Regions from separate parts of the Homo sapiens genome. Here region 2 is linked to region 1. Evidence: fine-mapped expression QTL. A gene starts in region 1. The other region holds a variant in brackets. All regions are shown on one strand. Distances are from middle to middle.

Region 1 (10,277 bases):
CCAACGTGGCCCAGGAGTTCAGGTCTACCCTGGGCAAGACCCCAGGTGGCAAGACCCCAGGTAGCAAGACCCCAACTCTTAAAAAAAAAAAGCAAAACCAAAACCAAAACAAAACAAAAAAACAGGTGGGTAATTTAGCCATCTCTGTCAAAATATAAAATTCACATAAACTGGCCCACAATTTAACTTCCAAGAGTTTTTCCTACATTCACTTAAACAAGTATACTCAAAACCATATATAAGGCTATTCATGGTAGCATTCCTTGAAATAACGAAAGAGCAGAAACAACTGTTTATCAGCATTAGAAGATTTAGGCAAGCTATTAATCATATTCCAGGGAACTCTATTTGGCTACTAGAAAGAATAGGAAGATCAATGTGGTTGAGCCTGCGTGATCTACATAATGTATTGATCAGTACATATTTTGTGTATTCACAGAAGAGCTCTGACAAAAAATGCACAGGAAGTTCCTTCAGTAATGTTAAAGAAAAGCAGAATTACACACAGATGTGGGCGTGCAGTGTGAGAAGGCTGATGGGTGGAGGTGACAGTGAGAGCTGCTTTATTTCCCATACCTTGCTGCACAGTTTGTACTGTTTGAATTTTTACCATGTACATGTATGACTTATTCTAAAACATATACCTAGTTAAAATCTTTATTTAAAGATCCATTCTTATTCACATGCTGGAAAAGATCTAAACTAGATCTAACCCTGTTTAGTGCCATTAGGTCAACTGTCTTTACAATTTTTAATGCATTCTAACCTCTGTTAAAGTCTCATCTTACAGAATAAAACCAACCAAAGAATCAAATGAAAGCAGGACTTCCTTTCCCCCATCCCTCAATTATTTTTTTCTGAGGATAACAATGCTTAGTGTATTCATTTTAGACAATACAGAAAAGATAAAAAGGAAAATTAAAATTATGTATAATTCCACCATCCAAATATAAATGCCCAGTAATATTTTACTCTTTCCTACCAAATATTTTATGCATACACATTTTTCCTTATATTTGAACACATCATATTTCTGTAGTATAAGTGGATTTTTCCACTGGTAAGTACATCTTGTATTGTAAGTACTTTCCTGTCTTTAGTTTTTCTTCTACAGCATGGGTTTTAATATCTGTAAGGCACTTAATCTTAGAGATGGGCTATAATTTACATAGCCAGTTCCTGATTACATTTAGGATGACTTTAAAACGCAAATCTTTAAGAATACCTCTAATTATTTTCTTAGAATAATTTCCTAAAAGTAGTATTATGGTGTCAAAATGAATAAACCTTTTTGAGGCTCTTGTTACACATTCAATAGCATTTTCTGACAGTATATAATAAAAATCAATACAATCCAAGGCTGAGATGACATGAATTTGGATATAATAAGATTGGCGCATAGCTCCGTCCTCCATAGCCATCTCATCTCACTCATTTCATTACCTTTTCAACAACGTGACAATGCTTTTTAAGTGGTTTCCCCATCAAATCATAACTGACATTTAGAAGGGAAAATGCTAACGTGGCTTCTTCTCTGGCCTAGGTGTTCCAGGATACACTGTCAGATGATAGTCAGCCTTTTCTGTTTTTTGTTTTTTGCTTAAGTTACACATCCCTCTAGTCATAGTACCTAGAAAACAGTCACTTGCAAAGGATTTATGACACCATTAACAACGGGCCATCCAGCACTGTAAGGGGAGAGACATCGTGTGGCAGTTCTTGTTTTATGGGACCTAGATTTTCTGCACTAGCTTATGGGCTAGAAACTTTGTTAAGCTAGTATTTTTTAAACAATGTACTTGTATTTTTGGTTCCTAAAAACAGTAAAAGTAACACTTGTTTCATAGAGAAAGTACAGAGAAGTATAAAAAGAAAATAAAAATTACTTAAAAACTTGCCATTTGGAAGTAATTCTTTGGTCACATTTTGTGGCCTTTTCCCAATTTTTTTTCCACATGTATATATAACATATGTAAATTTGAATATGTTGCCATGTAATACATATATTTTATATAATCTCTGCTAAATAGTAAATGTATATAAGTCTATTTGTATTACATAAGTATATTTATTATTTTATATATTTATGCCCCAAAGTATTTAAATATAAATATGTGTTTATAATAATCATATAAATAAATGATATATAAATGTTTGTAATCTATATATCCATATAAACATAAAAATATTTTTTAACCTCATTTCACTAAAAGCCTCTGAAGAAACTACTATTACTGTCCCCATTTTTCTGTTGTGAAAAATCACGGCTTGGAAATAAGCTAGTAAGAGAGAGAGCCACAGCCAGATTTAAGTGTCTCACTCAAGGGCTTCAGTGACAGATCACAAAGATTTAGACGTCATTCTACTTGCAGCTGGAAGGCAGTGAAAGAATCTCATGAAGAAAAACATAAAATCATAACTTTTTTAGAGAACAACATTTCAAAAAATTTTATAATAACAAAGCCACAAAAACAGAAGTTCTTAACAAATCCACTATAGGAGAGGGGGTTAGAGCCTCACAAAGGAAGTGCTAGAATCTAGGCCCCAGCATCTCATTCCAGAGTCCCATTCTACCACTGTATTACATGTCACAATTAAACTGTAAATACATTCCATCTCATCACAATCATTCCAGTAATATTCTAGCAGCATCCTAGCTCTTGCAGTGATAACTAAAAAGCAAAACATGCATTTGCCATCGGAAGCAGAAACCTGCATCTCATCCGAAGCTTGAGAGAACCTGAAAGCCACTCGCTCTCAGGCCCAAACCCCTAACCGGCAGGTAGTATTGCCACTCCCTCCAATCCAGGCTGGCTGCCTCAGACTGCGGGCTGCCCCGGAACCTGACAGACATCCATTCTGCACGCACATGATGTCCATAACAGGGCGCTGCAGCCACGGCATTCAAACAACCCAGCAAAGGTGTCCAAACCTCAGCAAAACATATAATCCCATCATTTTCAAACAGAATGAAACTTGCAACTTCACCTGTAAATTCTTAACCCCACAAGTGCAGGTCTCTGATTGTGTCTATCTAGTCTTCCCATTATATTGTTTTTTGAACTGTTCTGTATCTTTTTAATTTTTTTTTTTTTTTTTTTTTGAGACGGAGTTTCGCTCTTGTTGCCCAGGCTGGAGTGCAGTGGCACGATCTCGGCTCACCACAACTTCCACCTCCCAGGTTCAAGCGATTCTCCTGCCTCAGCCTCCCGAGTAGCTGGGATTACAGGCATGCGCCATCATGCCCGGCTAATTTTGTATTTTTAGTAGAGACGGGGTTTCTTCATGTTGGTCAAGCTGGTCTCAAACTCCCGACCTCAGGTGAACCACCGCCTCGACCTCCCAAAGTGCTGGGATGACAGGCGAGAGCCACCACGCCCAGTCTTTTTTAATTTCTTTAAAAAATAAATAATTGAATTAGTAGGACCACATGGGTGTGTTTGTGTGTATGTGTGTGTGCGTTTATGTTGGCAAGTGTGTATGTTGGTGGGTATGTGTGTTGGTGGGAGGATAGCTGTAGCAGCAAAGTCAGTAGAGATTTAAATTTTGGCTTCTATTATTTCACAAGTTTGACTGGGATCAGGATGAGGCCTTTATACAAGTAGTTAAACTTGCAGCATTTCAGAAGCTCCTAGGACTTCATCAGTCTAAGCTAGAATGGCCTTCAGATCTGGAAACTGCACGGCCCTCGGCAAGGCTCTCAGAGGGACTGCTACCTCTTACACTAACTTCATGGTTTCCCCATCCACACTCACATACGAGGATCACCTCCATGGCCCCAGGGCCACCCGATCTCACTCTCAGCAGCCTAGAAAACTCCAGAATCAAAGGCCTTCCTCCCAAAAGGCCCCTCTGACCTTAACAAAGAGGCAAATCCTTACCTTACTCTCACGATGGTAGCACCTTCGTCACAGGCCTATCCACTACCATCTGAGCATCTAAGACAAGAGCAAACGTCTAATGAAGGACGGAAGGGCACAGCCAGCCAGCTCTACTTCCTGTTTCGAAACTCCTGAGTCACAAACACTAGAGGGGAAAGAGCGCTTACCACTTGCCCCTGAGTGAGCAGAGTGCCTTCTAAAGCTTCTAAAGCTGCAGGAAAAAGGCCTGGTGGTCCAGGAGACCGCACGCAGGGCACCTGGCCACCTGAGCACTGGCCCCTGGCTGTGACTTTGGATGGGCCATTTTACCTTTGGGGCCTCATTTCCACATTCCAAAACAAGGACGTTGGACTGGATTGTAACTAAGAACACTTTCATTTCATATTTAGGATTTAAAGATTTTTCTGGGTTCATCATTAAGACTTTAATTTTTTCATTCAATGAATCTTGATGGAGCACCTCAGAGAGGTCTTGAGATTGGACACTGCAGAGCCCTCTCATCTTGGTTCTCAGGGTGGCTGTGAACTTTCAGAGCTAAAGCCCCTGGTTTAGCCAAGGAGCATCTCTGTGGCCCCAAGGTCACCAGATTCCACCCTCAGCAGCCTAAAATACTCTAAAATTAAAAAAAAAAAAAAACTCTAAAAAGAAAAAACTCTAAAATGAAAAACCTCTAAAAAGAAAAAACTCTGAAATAAAAAAATTCTAAAATGAAAAAAATCTAAAAAGAAAAAACTCTAAAATGCAAAAACTCTTTGGTAAGATGGTAAGTCCATCTTACCAAAGGTGATCCTTGTATATGAGTGTAGCTGAGGAAACCATGAAGTTAGCTGAAAGCTGGGTTTACCATCTTATCAAAGAAGCAAATCCTGGGGCCCTCACCATGTTGGGCTCTAGGGATATACCAGTAAACAAAATATTGCCTTCATACTGAGAGTTAGATGAAATGTTTTCTGATATTAAAAGTAGGAAAAGAAAATCAAACACCTCTCTTCTTTGAAACTGCCTTTTGTCTTTCCCCAAATAGAATATAAGCTTTCAGAGGGTAGGGACTCATAGCTGAGAAGACTGAACGAAGTATCTGAAAAGGACTCTTCACCAGAGAGGGCTAGGTCAAGATGGCCTCATAATATCAATGCCTGGATGGCCACCGTGGCTCATGCATGTAATCCTAGCACTTTGAGAGGCCAAGGTGGGAGGATCCCTTGAGCATAGGAGTTTGAGACCAGCCTGGGCAACAAAATGAGACACCATCTCTATGAAGAAAAATTTTTTAATTAGCCAGGTGTGGTAGCACGCGCCTGTGGTCCCAGCTAATCTGAAGGCTGAGATGGGAAAATTGCTTGATCCCAGGATGTTGAGGCTGCAGTGAGCCGTGATTGCACCACTGCACTGCAGCCTGGGTGACAGAGCAAGACTTTGTCTCAAAAAATAAATAAATAAAAAAGAAATAGAAACAGAATGAGCAAAATAAAATACCAATAGTATTAATATGCAATAATAATTGCTAACTCGTGTAGTAAGTGATGTATGCGTATTATCTCCTTCAAGCCTCACAGTCACCTCTGGAGGCATTATTAATCATTTAATGATGAGATAACAGAGGCACAGAGGAATTACTTGCCTGAGATCGCATAGTTAAAAAACAGTGTACACATACAAAAGAAAAATACATTTTGCAAAGATACAGATAAATTCACGAATCCACATCAAAACATTAGAGAACTGTCTTTGGGGAACAAGAGAGAGGGCAGGAGGGCAAGGGTGGGGGTGGAGAGATAAAAGGAAACCCTTCAGACACGGAAGAGGGGGAAGGGGCTGTGCACCTCAGGGCATCGTGATTCGACAGAATGACAGAATAAAGTACTTAACCGTCGGCCCCAGGGCCAAATGAAAAAGAAAAAAAAGTGGATTGATAAAGTCTTCTGGACTCTCCAAACGGGTCCACAGGAGGGAGACCGTGTATCTGCATTCGAGGCGGCAGGGAAGCTTGGAGGACAAAAAGGTAGCAGAGGAACTGGAGACTGCTCAGAGTGAAAAAGTAGCAAAGTCAGAGGCAACGGCTCAGAGAGAAACCACACAGGAGACCTGGGCCAGGCAGCACCCAGAGGTGTCCTCAGAAGGGCAGATCCAAGTTGCTTCCCCACCCCCACAGCCCTGTTTCTAGAGCAAGTCAAGAAACAAAAATATTGTGGTTTCCTGTTGAAGAGGCCACCTTGGCAACAGGCACTCACCCGCTCCACCCTTTCCTGGCACCATCGCAGTCTCCGAGTCCCCTAACCTGCCTAACTCCACGTGCTCAGCAGGGAAGGGGGTGGGAAAGGCTCCCAGGAAGAAGTTTCTTTTACTTTCAATAACCACCCTGGCTCTTCTGCCTCCCTCCATGGCCTCACTTCCTGTTGAGTTGACTAGCAAATTCAGCAGGGCTTGAAAAAAAACACAAAAGATAAAAGGAGGAGAACCTGTGAAAACACTTCCCTCCAGCAGAAAGGCAGAATCTGGTCTCCGAGAGAAAGAGAAAACTTCACCACAGAAGGAACTGCAGGGTAAACTTTACTCCTAAAGCAGAACAGAGATGACTCACTCGAACAAGAAATGTTTCCTGTTTAAAGGAACAGATGCCCAATTTCCAACCATTCAGAAGAGGGATGTGGCAGACAATTCATGGACGTGCAAACTAAAGCCCGAGCGCTGGACATGCTTTATTGGAAAGCATTTATACTGACTCCATTTAGTAATAATAACCCCTGTCGGTGGCAAGTAATATGCCATTCTTTCTTGCAAAGGGTCTGGGAATAGGAAGTTTCCCTTTGCCTTGATCAAACCTCAGCACTGAAGTCACAGACCAGCCCTCTCCTCCCTCCCGCCGGACTGGGTAAAGCCAGCCCTGTAGCTGAAATGTAGGTAGATTGTTCAGAAAAAAGGAGGAAGTGTTCTGGCTCAGCCCTACTTGGCTTAGCCCTGCTCGGCTCAGCCCTGCTCAGGCTGAGTTCCCATCCTTGGCCATGTTCTCCAGTTTAGTTGTAACCCGTGTCTTTGTAGCATTGATCCTGGAGTGTTGGTGCTACTGAGGTCTGTTCTCCAAAGCTCTGAGCCCTAGACCCTCCCCTGTTCTCTCATTTTTTTTTTTTTTTTGAGACGGAGTCTCGGTGCGTTGCCCAGGCAACAGTACAGTGGTGCGATCTTGACTCACTGCAACCTCCACCTCCTGAGTTCAGGTGATTCTCCTGCCTCAGCCTCCCGAGTAGCTGGGACTACAGGCACCCACCACCACCCCCGGCTAATTTTTGTATTTTTAATAGAGATGGGGATTCACCATGTTGGTCAGACTGGTCTTGAACTCCTGACCTCAAGAAATCCACCCGCCTTGGCCTCCCAAAGTGCTGGGATTACAGGCATGAGCCACGGTGCCCAGCCCCTCCCCTGTTCTCTGCCATCTGCCTCTCTTTCCCATTTGAATTTTTTGTTCGGGGGACGGAGTTTCGCTCTTGTTGCCCAGGCTGGAGTGCAATGGTGCCATCTCGGCTCACAGCAACCTCCGCCTCCCGGGTTCAAGCGATTCTCCTGCCTCAGCCTCCTGGGTAGCTGGGATTACAGGCATGCGCCACCATGCCCGGCTAATTTTGTATTTTTAGTAGAGACAGGGTTTCTCCATGTTGGTCAGGCTGGTCTCAAACTCACGACCTCAGGTGATCCACCCGCCTCGGCCTGGCAGAGTGCTGGGATTACAGGCATGAGGCAGCGCGCCCAGCCATGAATTTTTAAAAAGGGTTTTCTGCCCTTTTGCTTTCACATCTTGTACATTTTATAACCAGAACACCAGCAATAACACATTACCTATATGTTGCACCTTGACATGAACTATCTCTAATTCTGGCAGCAGAATTCTCTAATTCAGGGTATTGTTCTCCCATGTTATGGATGAGGAAACTAAGACTCAGACAGTTACATGGAGTCAAACTCAGTCCTGCTGAGCCAAAAACAGAGATTTTTCTATGACATACTAACTCCCTTTCTCCAACACTTCAAATTTGGAATGAATCATGTGGATGGAAGAGCAACAAATTTAAACTAATAGTGACTGGTGCATAAAGGGCAGAAGGTCCTTGGTTTCTCAGTCACCTAACAAAAAGGAGTTGGCCTAATAAAGGCACAAGCTAATACTTATCAAACCATTGGCGTATGCCAGACACAGCCACCTAAACTAGCTCATTTCCACTTCTGAACAGTTCTCAGAAGTGGATGCTACGATTGGTCCCATTTTATGGATGAGGACACTGAGGCTTAGAGAGGCTGAAAGACTTGGCCACGCTCAGTCAGTGAGTGACAGAATAAGGTCTGTTTGTCTCTAAAACCCTGAGTGGTTAGTCACCACCTAAACATTAATGCATAGCCATGAATCTCAATCTGACCCACCTCAGAATTAACTGTAACATTTCTAAAAATATGAGTCTTCCAGCTCCAGCTTTGGAACTCCTATCTGAGCAAAACTGTGGGAGATAAAACAGCTGGAGCACTTAGAATAGTGCCTGGGCCTTCCACATTTCTCAATAAATAGGCTGTGGGTGCAGTGGCTCACACCAGTAATCCCAGCACTTTGGAAGACCAAGGCAGGATGATCGCTTGAGCCCAAGAGATCGAGGCCAGCCTGGGCAACATAGGGAGACACTGTCTCTGCAGAAAATTTTAAAAAATTAGTCAGTTATGGTGGCATGCATCTGTTGTCTCAAGCTACTCAGGAGGCTGAGGTGAGAGGATAACTGGAGTGTGGGAGGTCAAGGCTGCAGTGAGCTATGATCACACCACTGCACTCCAGCCTAGGTGACAGAGCGAGGCCCTGTCTAAATAAATAAATAAACAAATAAATAAATATTCACTACTATGTTATTTAAGCTCACAACATCTCTAAGATGGCTATAAATTATTAGGCTTACATACAGATGATGCAATTAAATGCAACATCAATTAGCTGACAAATGGCAGGGCCAGTGCATGAACTCAGGAGTGTCTCACTCAAAAGTTTCTGCTCTTAGCCCCTGTACACATCTCCCTGCATGTACCCAGGCCCAGCCTAGCAGAAATGGATGATCTGCTGGAGGCATCTGAGGAGCAGTACTGAGAATGGGGGGAGCAGGGTAGGAGTGGGAGTCTCAGGGCTTCAACTTGTGCCATTTGTAAGGCACTGACCCTAGATTCTCCCAGTGTGTGTGTATATATATATGACTGATAAATGAATTATGGCCAGGCACAGTGGCTTACCCCTGTAATCCCAGCGCTTGAAGAGATTGAGGTAGGCGGATCACTTGAAGCCAGGAGTTTGAGACCAGCCTAGCCAACATGGCAAAACCCCATCTCTACTAAAAATACAAAAAAATTAGTTGGGCATGGTGGCATGTGCCTGTAGTCTCAGCCACTCAAGGCACGAGACTCACTTGAGCCCAGGAGGCGGAGGTTGCAGTGAGCCGAGATGACACCATTGCACTCCAGCGTGAGTGACAGAGGGACACTCCGTCTCAACAAAAATAAAAAGTGTTAATAAGTGAATTATAAACCTCAGGTTGGTTGAATTCCTATTGTGAAGCACAAAGATCATTATTACTTCATTTGCTGTAACCAACTTCTCACCCTCATCTTGAGACATGTGCCTGTGTGACTGTTTATATCAGAATTAATAATGTGCATGGTCCTTAGTCCCAGGGAAGCTGAAAGATCCGGAGGTGTTGCTGGAGCTGCAGGGACATGGAGAGCTGGCTCCTGCCCAGCACAGAATGAGGACAGGTCTGCTTTGACTCAATCTCCAAGTGGTTTCCACCCTCTAGAATCTCAGCTCCCACCTGGAGGCCTGGTCCTGAGACTACTGTGTCTCCTACCATGTCCACCAGCCGGCTGAAAGCAGATTTGGACCTGTAAGTGTCCCTAAAAAAGCCAAGAAAGACCAAACCTCAGCTCAACTGCAACACACCCTTCCCATTCATCTTGATGTGACACCCTTCAAAGATAAACACTCACAGTGAAAGCAAAATCCCCTGAATGTGCATGCCCTTTGTTTGTTGCCAATGTGGGAGTTTGTATATAACCCATGGGCCAGGATGGTGTGGTTTGTGGATTCAACGGGGCCGCTCCCCTTTCCTTGACTGGCAGCTGGCCTTGGCTACTGCCCTAGACTCCTCCTCCAGAGCGTGGCAAGGGAAGGGAAAACAGATTCCATTCACATCTATCTCATTCCTTTCTGGGCCTTGTAGGGAGAGGCTCAAAGAGTTGTCTAAGACAAAGATTTTAGCAACTGGGATTTTAAGTTTTTCTTTTGGTATTAAAATGATCAGACAGTCATGGGGCATTTACAGTTACTGACCTCAATCTGCATACTCTGCAGCTTGTTGATTGCCAATACCTACCCCT
Region 2 (10,277 bases), 54 kb before region 1:
TATTCTATCATATATATATGGAATTTCTGAATCAAATGGTAGTTCTACTTTTAGTTCTTTAAAGAATCTCTATGCTGTTTTCCATAGCAGTTGTACTAGTTTACATTCCCACCAGCAGTGTAGAAGTGTTCTCTGTTCACCACATCCATGCCAACATGTATTTTTTTTTTATTTTTTGATTATGGCCATTCTTGTAGGAGTAAGGTGGTATCTCATTGTGGTTTTGATTTGCATTTCCCTGATCATTAGTGATGTTGAGCACTTTTTCATATGTTTGTTGGCCATTTGTATATCTTCTTTTGAGAATTGTCTATTCATGTCCTTAGCCCACTTTTTGATGGGTTATTTGTTTTTTCTTGCTAATTTGTTTTAGTTTGTTGTAGATTCTGGATATTAGTCCTTTGTCAGATGTATAGATTGTGAAGATTTTCTCCCACTCTGTGGGTTGTCTGTTTGCTCTGATGACTGTTCTTTTTGCCATGCAAAAGCTCTTTAGTTTAATTAAGTCCCAGCCATTTATCTTTGTTTTTATTACATTTGCTTTTGTGTTCTTGGTAATGAAATCCTTGCCTAAGCCAATGTCTAGAAGGGTTTTTCTGATGTTATCTTCTAGAATTTTTATATTTTCAGGTCTTAGATTTAAGTCCTTGATCCATCTTGAGTTTATTTTTGTGTAAGATGAGAGATGAGGATCCAGTTTCATTCTCCTACATGTGGCTAGCCAATTATCCCAGCACCATTTGTTGAATAAGATGTGCTTTCCCCACTTTATATTTGTGTTTGCTTAGTCAAAGATCAGTTGGCTGTAAGTATTTGGGTTTATTTCTGAGTTCACTGTTCTGTTCCATTGGTCTATGTGCCTATATTTATACCAGTACCATGGTGTTTTGGTGACTATGGCCATATAATATAGTTTGAAATCAGGTAATGTGATGCCTCCAGATTTGTTAGGTTTTTTGCTTTTTGATTTTTTGTTTGCTTGTTTTGCTTTGTTTTGTTTTGCTTAGTCTTGCTTTGGCTATGTGGGTTCTTTTTTGGTTCCATATGGATTTAAGGAGTTTTTTTTCTAGTTCTGTGAAAAACGATGGTGGTATTTTGATGGGAATTGCATTAAATTTGTAGATTGCTTTTGGCAGTATGATCTTTTTCACAATATTGATTCTACCCATCAGTGAGCATGGGATGTGTTTCCATTTGTTTGTGTCATCTATGATTTCTTTAGCAGTGTTTTATAGTTTTCCTTGTACAGGTCTTACAACTCCTTGGTTAGGTATAGTCCAAACATTTTATTTTTCTTTTGCAGCTATTGTAAAAGGGGTTGAGTTCTTGATTTGATTTTCACCTTAGTCGCTGTCAGTGTATAGCAGAGCTACTGATTTGTGCACATTAATTTTGTATCTGGAAACTTTACTGAATTCTTTTATCAGTTCTAGGAGCTTTTTGGAGGAATCTTTAGGGTTTTGTAGGTATACAATTATATCATCAGCAAACAGCAATAGTTTGACTTCCTCTTTACTGATTTGGGTGCCCTTTATTTCTCTCTCTTGTCTGATTGCTCTGGCTAGGACTTCCAGTACTATGTTGAAGAGGAGTGGTGAGAGTGGGCATCCTTGTCATGTTCCAGTCCTCAGTGGGAATGCTTCCAACTTTTCCCCATTCAGTATGATTTTGGCTGTGGGTTTGTCATAGATGGCTTTTATTACATTGAGGTATGGCCCTTGTATGCTAGTTTTGCTGAGAGTTTTAATCATAAAGCATGCTGGATTTTGTCAAATGCTTTTTCCGCATCTATTGAAATGATCATGTGATTTTTATTTTTAATTCTTTTTATGTTGTGTATCACATTTATTGACTTGAGTATGTTAAGCCTATATCCCTGGTATGAAACCCACTTGATTATGGTGGATTATCTTTTTGATATGTTGTTGGATTCAGTTAGCCAGTATTTTGTTAAGGATTTTTGCATCTATGTTCATCAAGGATATTGGTCTGTAGTTTTCTTTTTTGGTTATGTCTTTTCCTGTTTTTAGTATTAGGGTGATACTGGCTTCATACAATGATTTAGGGAGGATTCCCTCTTTATCTTGTGGAATAGTGTTAATAGGATTGGTACCAATCCTTCTTTGAATGTCTGGTAGAGTTCTGCTGTGAATCCATCTAGTCCTGGACTTTTTTGTGTAGGTAATTTTTTAATTATCATTCCAATCTCACTGCTTGTTATTGGTCTGTTCGGGGTATCTAATTCTTCCTGATTTAAGCTAGGAGGGTTGTATCTTTCCAGGAATTTATCTGTCTCCTCTAGGTTTTCTAGTTTATGCACGTAAAGGTGTTCACAGTAGCCTTGAATGATCTCTTGTATTTCTGTGGTGTCAGTTGTAATATCTCCCTTTTCATTTCTAATTAAGCTTATTTGGATTTTCTCTCTTCTTGGTTAATCTTGCTAATGATCTATCAATTTTATTTATCTTTTCAAAGAACCAGCTTTTTGTTTCATTTATCTTTTGTATTTTTTGTTTGTTTGTTTGTTTGATTTCATTCAGTTCTGCTCTGATCTTGGTTATTTCCTTTCTTCTGCTGGGTTTGTGTTTGGTTTGTTCTTGTTTCTCTAGTTCCTTGAGGTGTGACCTTATATTGTCTGTTTTTGCTCTTTCAGACTTTTTTATATAAGTGTTTAGGGCTTTTAGCTTTCCTCTTTGCACTGCCTTTGCTGTATCCCAGAGGTTTTGATAGGTTTTATGTCACTGTTGTCATTCAGTTTGAAGAATTTTTTTAAATTTCCATCTTGATTTCATTGTTGACTCAATAATCATTCAGGAACAGGTTATTTAATTTCCATGTATTTGCATGGTTTTGAACATTCCTTTTGGAGTTGATTTCCAGTTTTATTCCACTGTGGTCTGAGAGAATGCTTGATATAATTTCAATTTTAAATTTATTGAGGCTTGTTTTGTGGCCTATCATATGGTCTATCTGGGAGAAAGTTCCATATGCTGTTGAATAAATGTATATTCTGGGGTTGTTGGATAGAATGTTCTGTAAATATCTCTTAAGTCCATTTGTTCCAGGGTATATTTTAAATCTATTGTTTCTTTGTTAACTTTCTGTCTTCTTGACCTGTCTAGTGCTGTCAGTGGAGTAATGAAGTCCGCCACTATCATTGTGTTGCTGTCTATCTCATTTTTTAGGTCTAGGAGTAATTGTTTTATAAATTTGGGAGCTCCAGTGTTAGGTGCATATATATTTAGGATTGTGATATTTTCCTGTTGGAGAAGGCCTTTTACCATTATATAATGTCCCTCTTTGTCTTTTTTAACTGCTGTTGCTTTAAAGTTTGTCTTGTCTGATGTAAGAATAGCTACTCCTGCTAGCTTTTGGTGTCCATTTGCATGGAATGTCTTTTTCCACCCCTTTCCTTAAGTTTATGAGTTCTTATGTGTTAGGTGAGTCAACTGAAGGCAGCAGATAGTTGATTGGTGAATTCTTACCCATTCAGCAATTCTGTATCTTTTAAGTAGAGCATTTAGGCCATTTATATTCAATGTTAGTATTGAGATGTGAGGTACCATTCCATTCATTGTGCTATTTGTTTCCTGTATGCCTTGGGTTTTTTTGTTTTTGTTTTTGTTTTTGCTTTTTTTTGTATTATAGGTCCTGTGAGATTTATGCTTTAAAGAGGTTCTGTTTTGATGTGTTTCCAGGATTTGTTTCAAGATTTAGAGCTCCTTTTAGCAGTTTTTGTAGTGCTGCCTTGGTAGTGGCAAGTTCTTTTAGCATTTGTTTGCCTGAAAAAGACTGTATCTTTCCTTCATTTATGAAGCTTGGTTTTGCTTGGTACAAAATTCTTGGCTGATAATTGTTTTGTTTAAGGAGGCTGAAGATAGGGCCCTAATCCTTTCTTGCTTGTAAGGTTTCTGCTGAGAAATCTGCTGTTAGTCTGATAGGTTTTCCTTTACAGGTTACCTGGTGCTTTTGCCTCACAGCTCTTAAGATTCTTTCCTTCATCTTAACTTTAGATAACCTGATGACAATGTGCCTAGGCTATGATCTTTTTGTGATAAATTTCTCAAGTGTTCTTTGAGCTTCTTGTATTTGGATATCTAGGTCTCTAGCAAGGGTGGGGAAGTTTCCCTCAATTATTGCACAAATGTGTTTCCAAACTTTTAGATTTCTCTTCTTCCTCAGGAACACCAATTATTTTTACATTTGGTTGTTTAACATCCCAGACTCCTTGGAGGCTTTGTTCATATTTTCTTATTCTTTTTTCTTTGTCTTTGTTGGATTGGGTTAATTCAAAAACCTTGTCTTCAGGCTCTGAGTTCTTTCTTGTGCTTGCTC[A/T]ATTCTATTGCTGAGACGTACCAGAGCATTTTGCATTTCTATAAGTGTGTCCATTGTTTCCTGAAGTTTTGTTTTTTATTTATGTTATTTCATTGAAGATTTCTCCCCTCATTTCTTGTATCATTTTTTTTTAAATTTCCTTAAATTGGGCTTTGCCTTTCTCTGTTGCTTCCTTGATGAGTTCTTTGTCAGGTAGATCAGGGGTTTCTTCTTGGTTTAGATCCACATCTGGTAAGCTAGTGTGATTTTGTGGGGGATGTTAAAGAACCTTGTTTTTTCATATTACCAGAGTTGGTTTTCTTGTTCCTTCTCATTTGGGTAGGTTCTGTCAGAGGGAAGATCTAGGGCTCAAGGCTGTTGTTCAGATTCTTTTGTCCTATGGCGTGTTCTCTTGATGTAGTACTCTCCCCCTTTTCCTAGGGATGTGCCTTCCTGAGAGCCCAAGCTGTAGTGATTGTTATCTCTTTTTAGGATCTAGACATCCAGCAGTCCTACCAGGTTCCAGGCTGGTATTGGGGGTTGTCTGCACAGAGTCCTGTGATGTGAACCATCTGTGGGTCTCTCAGCTGTGGATACCAGTACCTGCTCTGGTAGAGGTAGCAGGGGAGTGAGATGGACTCTGTGAGGGTCCTTAGTTTTGGTCATTTAATGCACTATTTTTGTGCTGGTTGGCCTCCTGCCAGGAGATGATGCTTTCAAGACAGCATCAGCTGTGGTAGTATGGGGAGGATCAGGCGGTGGGTGGGGCCCTAGAACTCCCAAGAGTATATGCCCTTTGTCTTCAGCTACCAGGGTGAGTAGGAAAGGACCATCAGGTTGGGGCAGGGCTAGGCGTGTCTGAGCTCAGACTCTTCTTGGGCGAGTCTTGCTGCAGCTGCTGTGGGGATGGAGGTGTGGTTCCCAGGTAAATGGAATTATGTTCCCAGGAGGATTATGGCTACTTCTGCTGTGTCGTGCAGGTTGTCAGGGAAGTAGGGGTAAACTGGCAGTCACAGACCTCACCCAGCTCCCACGAAACCCAGAAGATCAATCTCACTCCCACCATGCCCCCAACCCAGTAGTACCAAGTCTGTTTCCAGGCAGTGGGCAAACAGGACTGAGAACTTGCCCCAGGCTACCAGCCTCCCAGCTGCAAAAGCAAGTAGTGCTTTTGTGCTTCCCTGCCTGTGGAGTCTGCACACCAGATTCATGCCTTCCCCCAAGTTCTGGCCAGGAGATTTCCTATTCAGTTGGAATTGTTAGAAAATTCAGCTGGAGTTTTCCTTCTCCCTGTGATGTTTTCTGAGTTCCTCTGGCAGTCCTCCCCAGGTAGCCCTGTGAGACAAGTCAGAAATGGCATCCCTGGGAACCCAGAGAGCCCACAGGGCTTTTCCTGCTACTTCCTTTACCCCTATATTTCACTTGGTTCTCTAAATTGACTCAGCTCCAGGTAAGGTCAGAATCTTCTCCCATGATCTAGACCTTCAGGTTCCCCAGTGAGGTTGTGTGTTTGAAGGTGGACAATCCCCCTTTCCTACTTCCACAGTTTGGGCACTCACAGTATTTGGGGCATCTCCCGGGTCCTACGGGAGCAATCCACTTCCTTCAGAGGGTCTGTGGATTCTCTTGGCTTTCCTGAATTATTCCTGCAGTAGTTCTGGAGCAAAAGTTCACGATGCAAGACTCCACATGCTGCTCTGTCCATCCGAGTGGGAGCTGCAGTCTAGTCCTGCTTCCCGTCCACCATCTCTGTAGCCTTATATTAGTAGTATATTTTGAAGTCAGGTAATGAGATGCCTCCAGCTTTGTTCTTTTTGCTTAGGATTGCTTTGGCTATTTAGACTCTTTTTTGGTTCCATATGAATTTTACAATAATTTTTTTCTAATTCTGTGAAAAATGATGTTGGTAGTTTGACAGGAATAGCATTTAATCTCTTAATTGCTTTAAGTAGTGTGGCCATCTTAATGATATTGACTCTTCTAATCCATGAGCATGGAATGTTTTTCCATTTGTTTGTGTTGTCTCTGATTTCTTTCAGCAGCAATTTATAGTTCTCCTTTTACCTCCTTGGTTAGCTATATTTTTAGGGATTTTATTCTTTTTGTGTCTATAGTGAATGGGATTACGTTATTGATTTGGCTCTCACCTTGGACATTATTGGTGTATAGAAATGCTACTTATTTTTTGTACATTGATTTTGTATCCTGAAACTTTACTGAACTTGTTTATCAGTTCCAGGAGCCTTTTGGCAGATTCTTTAAAGTTTTCTAGGTATGCAATTATGTTATCAGTGAACAGAAAAATTTGACTTCTTCTTTTCCTATTTGGATGCCTTTTATTTCTTTCTCTTGCCTAATGGCTCTGGCTAGTACTTCCAGTGCTATGTTGAATAAGAGAGGTGAGAGTGGGCATCCTTGTCTTGTGCTAGTTCTCAAGGGTAATGCTTCCAGCTTTTGCCCATTCAGTAGGATTTTGGCTGTGGGTTTGTCATAGATGGCTCTTATTATTTTGAAGTAAGTTCCTTTGATAACCTAATTTGCTGAGAGTTTTTATCATGAAGGGATGTTGGATTTTATCAAAGGCTTTTTCCATGTCTATTGAGATGATCATATGGGTTTTCTTTCTAATTCTGTTTATGTGGTGAATCACATTTATGGATTCACGTATGTTGAACCAACCTTGCATTGTGAGAATGAAGCCTACTTGATCATGGTGAATTAACTTTTTTTTTTTTTTTTTTGAGTCAGTGTCTCATTCTGTCACCTGGGCTGGAGTGCAGCAGCACAATCACAGCTCATTGAAGCCTCAACCTCCTGGGCTGGAGTGATCCTCACACCTCAGCCTCCTAAATAGCTGGGACCACTACACCTAGCTAATTTTTTATTTTTTCTGTAGATGTGGGGTCTCATATCATGTTGCTTAAACTCCTGGGCTCAAGCAATTCTCCTGACTCAACCTCCCATAGTGCTGGGATAACAGGTATGAGCCACCGTGCCTGGCCATGAATTAACTTTTTCATGTGTAGCTGGATTCAATTTGCAAGTATTTTGTTGAGCATTTTTTTCAGTCTATGTTCATAGGGATATTGGCCTGTAGTTTCTTTTTTGTCTTTGCCAGGTTTTGGTATAAGGATAATGCCAGCTTCATAGAATAAGTTAGGGAGGAGTCCCTCCTCCTCATTTTTTTGGAATAGTTTCAGTAGAATTGGTACCAGTTCTTCTCTGTACTTTTGGTAGAATTTGGCTGTGAATCTTTCTGGTCCCAGGATTTTTTTTTTTTTTTAGTGTTAGATTATTTTATTACTGAATCAATTTCAAAACTCAATATTGTCTATTTGGGGTTTCAATTGCTTCTTGATTCAATCTTTGGAGGTTGTGTTTCCAGGAATTTATCCATTTCCTCTAGATTTTCTTGTTTGTATGCATACAGATGTTCATAATGATCTCTGAGGTTCTTTTATATTTCTGTGGGATTAGTTGTAATGTCACCTTTGTCCTTTCTAAATGTGCTTATTTGGATCGTCGTTTTTTTCTTTGCTAATGTAGCTAGCACTCTATCGGTCTTGCATTTCCTTTCAAAGATCCAACTTTTTGTTTCATTGATTCTTTGTATGGGTTTTTGAATTTTGATTCCATTCAGTTCTGTTCTGATTTTAGTTATTTCTTTTCTTCTCCTAGCTTTGGGGTTAGTTCTTGTTTTGGAATGAACATTTTTAAGGCCTTTAATATATATGGCCAAATTGCCATCCAAAAAGAATGTATCACTCTGCACTGCCACAAGCAAAGCATGGAGTGCTCCCGTCATCTCAGAATAAAACCCATCCATTTAATCAGCTCATTTGATGAAGGCCCAGGAAAACAAAGTTAGGGCATGATTCTTACTAGGTAGATGAAGAGAGTTAAGAGATGGCTAGTGGGGCGGGAAAGGACTGAAGCCTCAAGCCTTCATCCTGTTTAATTGTGAAGTATAGTGACCAACTAGTTCTAGTTGGCCTGAGACTTTCCAGGTTTTAGCACTGAGAGTCCAGAGTCCCAGGAAACCCCTAAGTGTCAGGCAGACAAGGACACTTGGTCGCTCTATCAAAAGTTAAACACCAGTACCACCTCTAAAGTTCTATTTACCACTTACAATTTCAGTTTTGAGCCTGTGTCTAAAACTCATTTTTTTAAGATACTCCTTGGTATATTCAGGGAAAACATCATAGAACAGAGCCTAAGACGTGTGAGTGGTAAATAGAATAGGTCGGGTGTGAATCCTTCTGCTAACCTGAAAAATAAGGCAGTCAGCGTCCTTGGACCCTACTAGTGTCATCCAGGTCCAGGGCCTTCCCCCTCCTAGGATTCCATGTTCATGAAATCTGAGCCAAGCAACAGTATTGGTATTAGATTAGGCTTATTTAACCTCAACCACAAAAGAAAGTTAGATTTGCTGAGAAAAAGTGGACATTCTCTGAAAAACATCCCCTTATTTTCTAAGTGTTCAAATTAACTACTAGGTATTTCCTTTCTTCTTCTTTTTTTTTTTTTTTTTTTTTTGAGACAGAGTCTCACTCTGTCACCAGGCTGGAGTGCAGTGGCGTGATCTCGGCTCACTGCAACCTCTGCCTTCTAGGTTCAAGCGAGTCTCCTGCCTCAGCCTCCCAAGTAGCTGGGACTACAGGTGTGTGCCACCACGCCCAGCTAATTTTTGTATTTTTAGTAGAGATGGGGTTTCACCATGTTGGCCAGGATGGTCTTGACCTCTTGACCTTGTGATCTGCCTGCCTCCACCTCCCAAAGTGCTGGGATTACAGGTGTGAGCCACTGCGCCCGGCCTCCTTTCTTCTTGTGCTATTGAAGAGGGATTTGTGATTTAGGGGGAGCTAACATATGATCCTTCAACATGGAGAACTCTACCTTTCTTCAAAGGAAGCTCAGTTCTAGTGGGGCAAACACTGTGCATAGTTTGCCCTTGACCTTTGGGTTCCATAAGCTCTCTGTTGGGCTGGGCTGGAATTTACTTCTCACCAGTCACCCATGGAGGACCCACTCAGTGAGGGCCCCAGGTAAGGGAAGATGCACAGAACATGGTGATGGGCCCTGGCCACTGTGCAATGCCAAGAGGAGTCCTCCCTGAGTTGAGTTTTACAGCCTCTCCAGGTCACCTTCATTTTAGGACTCTTTTCTTCATGGTGCCTTTGTACCTCCCCAGGACAGTATTTATGATGAAATGGAAGAGAAGTGGTCAAAACAGAAGGCGAAATGGAAGAAGGATGAGAAGTTCGAGCGAGAAAATATCCTGCTACAGCAAAGTGAGTACAGAAACTCTAGCTTTTTTGATGACAAGTGCATTAAAAAACTGCCATGAAGTTTGGTCTTGACTTGAGGAAGGTGGCCTTGGGCTTACCAAGGGTGATGGGCCACATGCTAGATACCTGAATGGAAGGTGCCCAGAGTTTTCATGAAAGCAAAATGACAACAAGGGTAGGGTCTTTTTTGAAGTTCAGGCATCTGATCTAAGAGAGTCTAAGCCTGTACCTTCTGAAACTCATTTGGTCCAAGTTTGCCCATGATGGCTGGAACAAATGTTAGAATCCCTGTAGGGAGTGCAGACTTATTATCTAGAAACAGATGAACCCAAAGTTCCAAGAGTTCTTTAGTTAGAATGTGAAATGTTCACTTGCATGTGGGCAGGGGGCAGATAGGAACAACACAATCCATTATACTGAGAGCTTCTATATTCCCACGTCTTCCAGAAGGAAGTCACACTTGGTAAATATTTTTAATATTTCCAACAATTAACACAGAGCTTGCACCATACAAAGTATTCTATAGGTGCACCTCCCACCCCCATTGGACTTGTTCATAAAAGGAAAAAAGAAGAGAATTTGTAGAGACTACTCCAGGCCTAGAAGACTAGTTGAGGTAGGAGTGGGACCTCTACAGACCTATTCCGCATTCCACGCCAACCACATTTATTTCAG

What was found.
Region 2: its variant is fine-mapped to the expression of CASP8 in monocytes (Schmiedel 2018, PIP 0.92).

Annotation. Positions count from the first base shown.
Region 1 is chr2:201,254,218-201,264,494 of GRCh38, reverse strand. CASP8 (caspase 8) reads right to left here and starts at 3,959. Exons shown (of 9, transcript NM_001372051.1): 1 at 3,882-3,959. RefSeq lists enhancers at 5,655-6,074, 6,095-6,154, 6,151-6,295, 6,255-6,384, 6,865-6,914 and a cis regulatory region at 6,223.
Region 2 is chr2:201,308,479-201,318,755 of GRCh38, reverse strand. It overlaps FLACC1 (flagellum associated containing coiled-coil domains 1), which reads left to right. Exons shown (of 15, transcript NM_001127391.3): 10 at 9,506-9,605. Among named protein-coding and RNA genes, the nearest start is that of FLACC1, 44 kb to the left of the region's middle. The variant A/T (reference allele first, on the strand shown) is at 4,336.